2 linked regions of the Homo sapiens genome follow. The protein of the gene in region 2 binds, or shares a complex with, the protein of the main gene of each other region. Each region holds a gene or a part of one and is shown on either strand. Other genes may lie near its edges.

The links.
Region 1: PLRG1 (region 2) and ARMC7 share a complex: the UniProt entries of both Homo sapiens proteins name them as parts of the minor spliceosome.

What each region holds. Positions count from the first base shown.
Region 1 is NC_000017.11:75,126,962-75,130,805, forward strand, and holds the end of ARMC7 (armadillo repeat-containing protein 7), read left to right. Parts: intron 1-1,715; coding exon 1,716-2,077; 3' UTR 2,078-3,311; downstream 3,312-3,844. Other genes in the region: NT5C (5'(3')-deoxyribonucleotidase, cytosolic type), read right to left, coding at 3,527-3,681, 3,792-3,844. UniProt on the Homo sapiens protein: As a component of the minor spliceosome, involved in the splicing of U12-type introns in pre-mRNAs.
Region 2 is NC_000004.12:154,534,472-154,540,407, reverse strand, and holds the end of PLRG1 (pleiotropic regulator 1), read left to right. Parts: intron 1-354; coding exon 355-457; intron 458-1,194; coding exon 1,195-1,303; intron 1,304-2,299; coding exon 2,300-2,439; intron 2,440-2,928; coding exon 2,929-3,122; intron 3,123-3,663; coding exon 3,664-3,723; 3' UTR 3,724-5,403; downstream 5,404-5,936. UniProt on the Homo sapiens protein: Involved in pre-mRNA splicing as component of the spliceosome. Component of the PRP19-CDC5L complex that forms an integral part of the spliceosome and is required for activating pre-mRNA splicing.

The sequences.
Region 1 (3,844 bases), on a different chromosome or scaffold from region 2:
TGAGGCAGGAGAATCACTTGAACCCGGGAGGCGGAGGTTGCAATGAGCCGCGATCATGCCACTGCACTCTAGCCTGGGCAACAGGGCAAAACTGTCTCAAAAAAAAAAAAAAAAAAAGCTGGCGTAAGCCATGCACAGTGGTGCATGCCTGGAGTCAGTCTTAACTCCCAGGGAGGCTGAGGCAGAAGGATGGCTTAAAGCCGGAAGTTCAAGACCAGACTGGACAACATAGGGAGATCCCACCCCATCTCAGAAAACTGACCAAGCAGCAAGCAGAGTATCCCATTTTTACTAAATACTTACATATATTCACATATTTCAAATTGTAGAATGAAAAACAAATGTTAGGTCAGCCGCCTAACATTGAGACGTAGTATTTGCTCTGTTGCCCAGGCTGGAATGCAGTGGTGCCATCTCGGCAACCTCCACCTACCGGGTTCAAGCTATTCTGCCTCAGCCTCCCAAGTAGCTGGGATTACAAGCATGTGCCACAGGCCCAGCTAATTTTTGTGTTTTTAGTAGAGACGGGGTTTCACCATGTTGGCCAGGCTGGTCTGGAACTCCTGACCTCAGGGTGATCCACCCACCTCGGCCTCCCAAAGTGCTGGGATTATAGGCGTGAGCCACCGCTCCCAGCCATTTGTTTGTTTTTGAGACAGGGTCTCACTCTGTCGCCCAGGCTGGAGTGCAGTGGTGCGTTCATGGCTTACTGCAGCTCCACTTCGTGGGCCCAAGCAGTCCTCCCACCTCAGCCTCTCAAGTAGCTGAGACTACAGGCGTGTACCATCATGCCTGGCTAATTGTGTGTGTTTTGGTAGCGACAGAGTTTTGCCATGTCGCCAAGGCTGGTCTCGAATTCCTGGGCTCAAGGGATCCTCCTGCCTTGGCCTGCCAAAGCACTGGAATTACAGGTGTGAGCCACTGTGCCCAGCCCATTCTAGTATTTTAACAGTTTTATTGCTATATGATGGACATAATAAACTGTACATATTTAAAGGGTACAATTTGATAAATTTTGGCATAAGTATATACCCATGAAACCATCATCTTATATTTTTATAACTTTTATAAACTGTTCTAAGGTGATGATACATTACAGGGTTTTAGTTTTTTATTTATTTATTTATTTCTGAGACAGAGTCTAGCTCTGTTGCCCAGGCTGGAGTGCAGTGATGCAATCTCGGCTCACTGCAACCTCCGAGTCCCAGGTTCAAGCAATTCTCCTGCCTCAGCCTCACAAGTAGCTGGGATTACAGGCACCTGCCACCACACCCGGCTAATTTTTGTATTTTTAGTAGAGACAGTTTCACCATGTTGGCCAGGCTGGTCTCGGACTCGTGACCTCAGGTGATCCACTCACTTCAGCCTTCCAAAGTGCTGGGATTACAGGCGTGAACCACCGTGCCCGGGCCGGCCTTGTTTTAGGTTTTTACATTTAAGAAAGGGGAAAAAAAAAGCGTATCAGCCATTGAACTTGCTGAACTGAGAGGGAAAGGGATTTGTGCCCACTTCTGGAAGGGTGGGCTGTGGCAGGCTGGAGCAGGCAGGCAGGCCTTTCTGGAAACTTGAGAAGGCAGGAGCCGGAATGGGCTTTGGATGCCTTGTGCTGGGGCCAGCTTCTCAACAGCCTGGGCCCCTACCTGGGGCTCACGGGCAGGGGAGGTGGGAGGAGGCCCGGGGCTACAGCATCCAGACTCTTCCTTGCTCTCCCACAGGAGGCCTGTGCAACCTGTGCCCAGACAGGGCCAACAAGGAGCACATCCTGCACGCAGGAGGTGTCCCACTCATCATCAACTGCCTATCCAGCCCCAATGAGGAGACGGTGCTGTCTGCCATCACCACGCTCATGCACCTGAGCCCGCCGGGCCGCAGCTTTCTCCCAGAGCTGACCGCCACGCCCGTGGTGCAGTGCATGCTTCGCTTCTCCCTCTCGGCCAGCGCCAGGCTCCGGAACCTGGCACAGATCTTCCTGGAGGACTTCTGCTCCCCCCGCCAGGTGGCCGAGGCCCGCAGCCGGCAGGCGCACTCTGCCCTGGGTATCCCACTGCCGAGGAGCGTGGCCCCACGGCAGCGCTGATCCATGGAGACTGCGAGACCGTGGCACCCCTACTGCTGGAGACCACAGTCCTGATGTGGACGCAGGGAACGGGGAGCACATACTGCCCCATTGGTGCCTTTTCAGCCATCTGAAAGGCGGGTTCTTTCAGCAGGACAGGCATTTACACTGATGAAACGCCACTGGGAGTGAGGAAGCCAGACTCCAGAGACACGGAGAAGATCAAACTGGAGCTGCGTTCATAGGCTGGCACTCTCAATCCTACATCAGGTGCCACCACCACCAGACTCAGGCCCTGGTGTAAGAAGCGGCCAAGTGCCTGGACCCAGAGGCTTTGCAGGACAGTGTTCTCAGGAGCTGGGCCTGAGGCTTAGGAGAGCTGCCTTCGCTGCAGGAAATCAGGGATTATCCCTTAACAGAAGTGTCTGGAGTAGTTTTCAGGTATAGGAATGAGATGCCTCGTGGTGAAAGGATCTCACCCTGGGAAGATGTGGTGCCCCCTCCAGGGCTCTGGAGGATGGATGCCTCCCCCAGGGGCTCTCCAAGCTGGGCATTTGGGCCTGGTGGATGCCAACCTGGATAACCTGTGGCCCAGCATTGACTGTCCACCCAGCCTTGCTGTTAGGCACCATGACTCCAAGATGAAGATGTGGTCCCTGCCCTTGAGTGACAGCCCAGGGACTTAATGTGGCCATCGGGCATCAAGCACAAGGCCATGCAGGTGATGATACGTCGGAATAGAGGCACCAGCCCTGGTAACTGCATCTTCTCCCCTTGCCACCCCATGGCCCCGGCTGAAAGCTTCGGCCCTCCTCTGCTGTCACTCAATGATGGGGAGCCCTACCCCAGAAGTGTATCCCACGAGGGCATCAGGGACGCAGTGAGTGTTGCTCAAGGGAGTCAGGAAGAGACGGCAACGTAAAGGATGTGGCTCCATGTCCATGGTGCCCCCTGGTCAACATAAGGAGCGTGGGATCCGATGGAAAGGTGGAGCTCAGGGAAAATGGGGGTCCTTGCCTCTCGTGTACCCCCTCAAGGCTGACCCCTTAGATGGCCCAGGAATGGCAGGTGCTACAAAAATGGTACCCACGTGGGCATGGAAATGGGGCAGATTAGGGGACCACTGGACTCAGAGGGGAGGGAAGGGCTCATCAGCACCCGCTCAGGGAGCCTGTCCCTTTATGTTCCCAAATAAAGGGTCCTAGAAGACTAGAAAGCCAAGGTCTTTTATTAAAGGTCCCGACTGGTTTTCCCACTGTATTTCCATGCCAGCCAGGGTCCAGGGACAGCCTCTCGGGAGGTACCGGGTGGCTGGGCCTGGGGCCCGGTAGCACAGCGCTTAACGGTATCTGCCTGCTCCACTCCACGGGGCCAGAGGCACCAGCACGATGCCGCCCCGACTCGGCTCTGCGGTGGCCCCTGTGGGCCTGCCCTTCCTTTAGCTCCAGCTGCTGCCCGCGGCATCCCCGCTCATTCCCGCTGCGCAGCTCCGCGCTTGCTATCTAAGATCTCCCTCCAGTTGTCACTCCAGGAGAGCAGCCGTCTCCTTGTCGGGGGCAGGACCAGGTGCCGATTGTGGCAGCAGGTGAACAAGATGTGCTCCCAGCTTGGGGTCTCCTCCTGGCCTAGGACAGTGAAAGACAGCGCGCTGCCATCTGTCATGGGTATTATTACTCCCTCTCCCTAATCCGGGCAGGCCAGAGGCCTGGAGGCTGCCAAGGATAACGGGTCCAACCTCGAACTGTGTCCTTGTCATCAATGAGCAGGTCCCCCAAGACCACCGTCTTG
Region 2 (5,936 bases):
ACCATGTTAGTGTTATTAGTGCCCTGCCCCTGAAATGTGATATTCTCACGTTCCATTCTGTAACAACTATTGTCCATTAGTTCTTTCATTCAGTAGTCTTAAAAAGTAGTCCCATCATACTCATTCTTAGATTTTCAGTACCCTGATCTTTTAGCTTTTTAGAATTCTTGCAAGTTGTCTCCTATTTATATTCGTCCTCCAGTTTGTAAATCATTATCTTTCACTTAAGCATTTTCTTTATTATATTCAGGCACTAGTTATGTAGTAAATTTTCAGCCTTGAATTGATCCAGTTATCTTCTTGAGATAATGAATACCTATTCTCTTTCCTAATATGTCTATTGTGTTTTTATAGATTTGGGATGTGAGAACTAAAGCCAGTGTACACACATTATCTGGACATACAAATGCAGTTGCTACAGTGAGATGTCAGGCTGCAGAACCACAAATTATTACAGGTATGATCGATACTTTTCAAGTTTACAGAATATTCATGTCAGAATCCATGTTATTATACATATACTTTTAATATTCATGATGACTCTTGCTCTGTATTGTGTTTACAGTGTTTCTGTGTCATATTTTAATCATGGACAATTGAAATGTATTCAAATGAAATTTCATTCCACTGTTTTTACCTCATGCTTTTTACATATCATAGAGTATGCCATACATAGTATCCTGTAATGTCTGACTAGAATACTGTGTTATGAACAATTATTATTTTATAGTGTCAAAATTATTTTTCTAAGAAATTGAAGTTAGAAGACAAAACATCTTGAGACTAGTAATCTTTAGAACTGATTTGAATCTTACTTTGCTCTAAATAAAGTTAGTAACAATGGATCTTTAATACTAGAAAATAATTCCTTTGCCTGATGTATTTTATTAACTTAAAAAAATCATTGAAGTTTTTTCCTTTTCACTAGGGTATACAATTATATATTTATTTGTTATTTGCATTTGTTTTAGCTGTTCAATTGACAGTGAATCAATTGTTGTATTGCATTTTTTTAAAGAATTAAAATCAACCTAAAAATTTGGAACTATGAAGAAATTAGCCAAGACTAATTTGCGTGTGATATGACTTTCATTTAGAACATATGTGTTTTGGAAGAATGCTTTGTATTTTATTTAACTTTTGCATTATTTTTCCTGGTCTATGTTTTGAGGGATATATGTGTTTCCATTACAGGAAGCCATGATACTACAATTCGATTATGGGATCTGGTGGCTGGAAAAACAAGAGTGACATTAACAAATCACAAAAAATCAGTTAGGGCTGTGGTTTTACATCCAAGACAGTAAGTGTATTTTCCTAATTAGCTTCTTGTTTTTCTTCAGTTCTTAAGATAATGCTGAAATGCTAGTGGTGTTAGCACTGCTTTTGGCAGTCATTTAGCTGCTGTCATTTCTAGGCCTGTGCCGCATAGGAACGTGTGTTTCTTTTATTTTCCTCATGCACTATTTTGCTTCATGCCCTATAAAACATGAGGAAAGCCTTCTACTTGATAACAAATAAATAATGTCAAATGAGACAGTGTAAATCATGATTAAATGCTGCATGTCAAAATAAAAGATATTAGTGGCTAGGCTTAATGTTTTGGACATAAATGATTTTGGACACTGAGACATTCATTGAATAGTTTAATTCTTAAGGAGGAAGTTAATATATGTAGAAACAGAAATAATAAGAACCGTGAACATTACAGTCAGAGTATCCAAAAAGGTGGAGCATAATATCACAACTATTGTTTGGTGTATCAGATCACTCTGACACTTTTCTGGATTCTTCCTCTCCTTCCTTTCCTCTTCTCTGTCTTCTACTCTCCATACCCTTTTCCCCCTCTCTTCTTCCTTCCTTTGCTTATCTTTCTCACTCCCATTTCGCCTCTCCTCCCTCCTGTTCTCTCTCTTCCTCTTGCCCTCTATTCCTTTTCTCTCTTTCTTCCTGTCCTGTCTTGCTCTCCCTCCCTCCAAAAGAGTTGCATAACACATTGCCCTTCATGTGAAATAGGGCTTCTGCACATTTATTGCTCTGGCTTAGTGCAGAGCATTAAGGAAATGAAAGGAGAACAAAACATTAATCTAGGACTTAAAATATACTGTTAAAAATGTGAAGGTCTGATTTAACCTTGAACAAATGTCTTAATATTTTTACATTTTGATACGACTATTTTGCTGAATATATAAATCATTGAGTACACACTGCAAAATATAACTGAAATAAACTTTTTAAAACCCACCACTTTATTTAACTTGGTTTACTTTGTCGTTAATTCTTTTTAATATTATTTCAGTTACACATTTGCATCTGGTTCTCCAGATAACATAAAGCAGTGGAAATTCCCTGATGGAAGTTTCATTCAAAATCTTTCCGGTCATAATGCTATTATTAACACATTGACGGTAAATTCTGATGGAGTGCTTGTATCTGGAGGTAAAATAAGATTTTTATAATAAATATGTTTAGTCTGTTATTTTTTCTTTTAATGATGAATAAACATTTGTAATGCTTCTAAGCTGTCACACTTAAGTATTATAGCAGCACTTGCCTGGTTAGGGCATATTTGCATGTTATTATGTGTGTTCATGCATATTCATATTACATGTAGTATATTTCATAGCTTAGTCCTCTTTGAGTTCCCATCTAATGAATCTCAGGGATTTATGCTGGGAATTGCTTAAAATTTTGTTTATTATTCTGGAATTGGATGTCAGATTTTCAGGTGCTTTTTAAGATCTATAAGTTCTGAACCCAGCCCAAATGAAAGTAGACAAACCAATATTAAGAGAAGGTGGAGTGCCTGTGTCTTATGTATTTTTATAACCGTAGTATTCCCATGCTTGGGCTAATGATGCTTCATAAATGTTTGTCAAGCTGTACTGCTGAGGGGATACCAGGTGTAACTAGATTTTTCCCTTTAAGCTGACAATGGCACCATGCATCTTTGGGACTGGAGAACTGGCTACAATTTTCAGAGAGTTCACGCAGCTGTGCAACCTGGGTCTTTGGACAGTGAATCAGGAATATTTGCTTGTGCTTTTGATCAGTCTGAAAGTCGATTACTAACAGCTGAAGCTGATAAAACCATTAAAGTATACAGAGAGGATGACACAGCCGTAAGTTCTGTGTTTCACATTCGTTAAGTAAAACAGCTATACCAATTTGGCAGCATATTCTCATTTAATTATCAGAAGGAAAAATAATCTTTATAGTATTTAAGATATCTGTCTTCTTGAATAGTGTCCATTTATATATTTCTATATTGTTTCACTGATGCCAGTGAATCCATGGATGGCTTTAATTTTATCCCAACTTCCTTTGTTATAGTTGCTGGGAAATGTTGCACCAAGAATAACAGCAAATAAATAGATTGCTATGTAAATTAATTCGAGAATCATAAGCTTTGGTGTTAGTAGAATATCCAAGTAGAAATGTTATTTTAGATGGAAAACTACAAACTAAACATAATGAATCCATCCATCTGTTATTAGACTTGGATAATGCCAGAAGTTTATCAACTCTTCCTAAAACTGTCAAAGAACTAAGTGTATAAAGCCAATGAATAATGTTAGATACCTTATTTTTGTTAGAAAGGAAGCCTATTAGACATGAAGCAAACTAATAATACTTTATTTTAACTCACTTTTCTATTTTTAGACAGAAGAAACTCATCCAGTCAGCTGGAAACCAGAAATTATCAAGAGAAAGAGATTTTAATGAATGTGGAATTTTTTCTCTCTCTTTTTTTTTCTTTTTAATTAAAAAAAAAAAAGCTTGGCGTTCATGAGGATATCCAGTCATTTTGTGCTCTGGCTGGGAATATAAAGGAGAAATTCACTTGCTTCAATCATTGCTGCTTCATATTTTACAATAAACTGTCCCCTGTCCCCTACCCCTGTGTTTTTATTTCTAAAACAATTTGTGATACTAGGAAGATGCAGATATCAAGTAAATGCAGGTTTATTGAACATAACTATTCTAGATGTAATATTTTGACAGTCTTATTAGAAAACCCCCTTTTTTAAAAAAAATGTATGAAACCGATAATTAGGACATTTGAAGGAGCAGTAGTTTTTTTTTAGTCCTTTAAAAAATAACATCTGTGACTAATAATTTGAGATTAAAAGATTTGAAGTCTTAATTTATGTATGTTTATTCCAAAAACAGTTTTTGAGTGTATGTTCTACAAAGTTCTGCACTAGATACTGTTCAGGAAATAGACAAGTAAGATGTGTCTATCCTCTAAGACTTCCAGTTTGGTAGCTTAGTATAGAAATTCTGTAACAGAGGTGCAGGTGAAATGCTGGGGGAACAGAAGGGATAAGACCATTTATTTTTCTCAGGAAGGATTGTGGAAGACTTCATAGAGTAAGTGGCATTGGAGATTACCTTGAAGTGAAGGAAGACAAAGAAGGAAAAGAGATGAGGCATAAAGTGATGAAACCAGGCACAAGAAAGTGTGCGGTGTGTTCTGGGACAAAGAATGTTCTGCTACTGTCGAATAATGGGACTAAAGCTGGCTTGTTCTGGGGAAAGCTCATATAAGTATGGATTTTATTCCTCAACTAGTAGGATACCAATACTGGTATTGAAACTTGGGGAAAATAACTGGAGATACCAGTGCAGCTATTTAAAGCTGTAGCAAGGGCTGCAATCTTGCGGAGATTTTAAAGAGAAGTTTTAAAGTTTCTAATACTGATGCCTCTTTTTGGTAAATACAAGTTTTATAAATCCTGCCCTGGGATCCTGATTCCCCATTAATCAAGATTTGTCAGACTTCACCTTCTATAATTAGAAAACACAGTTATAAGAACAGTCAATTTTTTAAATTTTCCAAATTAAAAAATTGCACCATGATTTTGAACAAGCACTTCCAATTACATTACCCATCTTGTATGCCATAGGTGGGAGTATAATTGTCACAGCCTTTAGGAATGTAGTTTTCTGGGATTTATTGAAACTTTGAACCTTTTGGCCTACTAAGTTCATTCCTAGGAAACTGCCTAATGGGAATGATCTGACAAGTGTACACAAGCAAAGTCATTGCACCTTTGTTCTTTAATACTTAAAACTAGCCCAAATGCCCTGTCAGTAAGGGACTGGTTTAATAGATGGTACCTTTATGCAATTTGTTTCTAAGTATTCGTTAAGAGAGTGAGGAATGTCTGGATTATTAGGGCAAGATTTCTAAACTTGGGTAAAAAAAAAAGTTGTGCAAGCATTTTTGTGGACAACTTGATGCTCTAAAATATAAGTAACACCACATTACTAACAGTGGCTTTGTTAGGAAGCAGAATTATGGAAGAACTTTCATGGGTGGCTTTACATATTTCTATAATGTTTTAATTTTCTATAAGCATGTATTTCGTAAACTTAAATAAAGAAAAAAGAACACTACACTTGCATTCCTGAGAGATTCTGATATGCCTTCTAACAAGAAAAATCAGAGGTGGATGCTGTTCCATCTCTAAAGGCCAAGAAGAAATTACTAGTACAAGGAGATGAGAAAGCCCCTACCGACCTGTCTGGCAAAGCTTCAACTATTGTGTTCAAGTTAGGTATACGTATCAAATTCTGAAAAGCATTAAAAAAAAATCTCTTTCCCTGCTCCATGCTGCCCTGTATTACAGTGTTCTTGAATCCTCTGTTGCATTAATTCATATACCATAATGTGTTTGTGAACCCTATGAAAGATGCAGAATTTCATGCATGTGCCCTTTTACTTACCTGACAGACATCCAACCAGGGTTAAGCTCAAATCTTTTCCACTGCCCATTCCGTACAGCTTGAGTGTAGTCAAGCTATAAAATGTTACCAAAGAAAAACAGCTCCACTGACTGGACTCATTCTTGGTCTATAACCACATATCTCAAGTGGGCCATCAATAATGACCAAATACACATTTCCATAGTTAATGCCTTCTGCCTGCT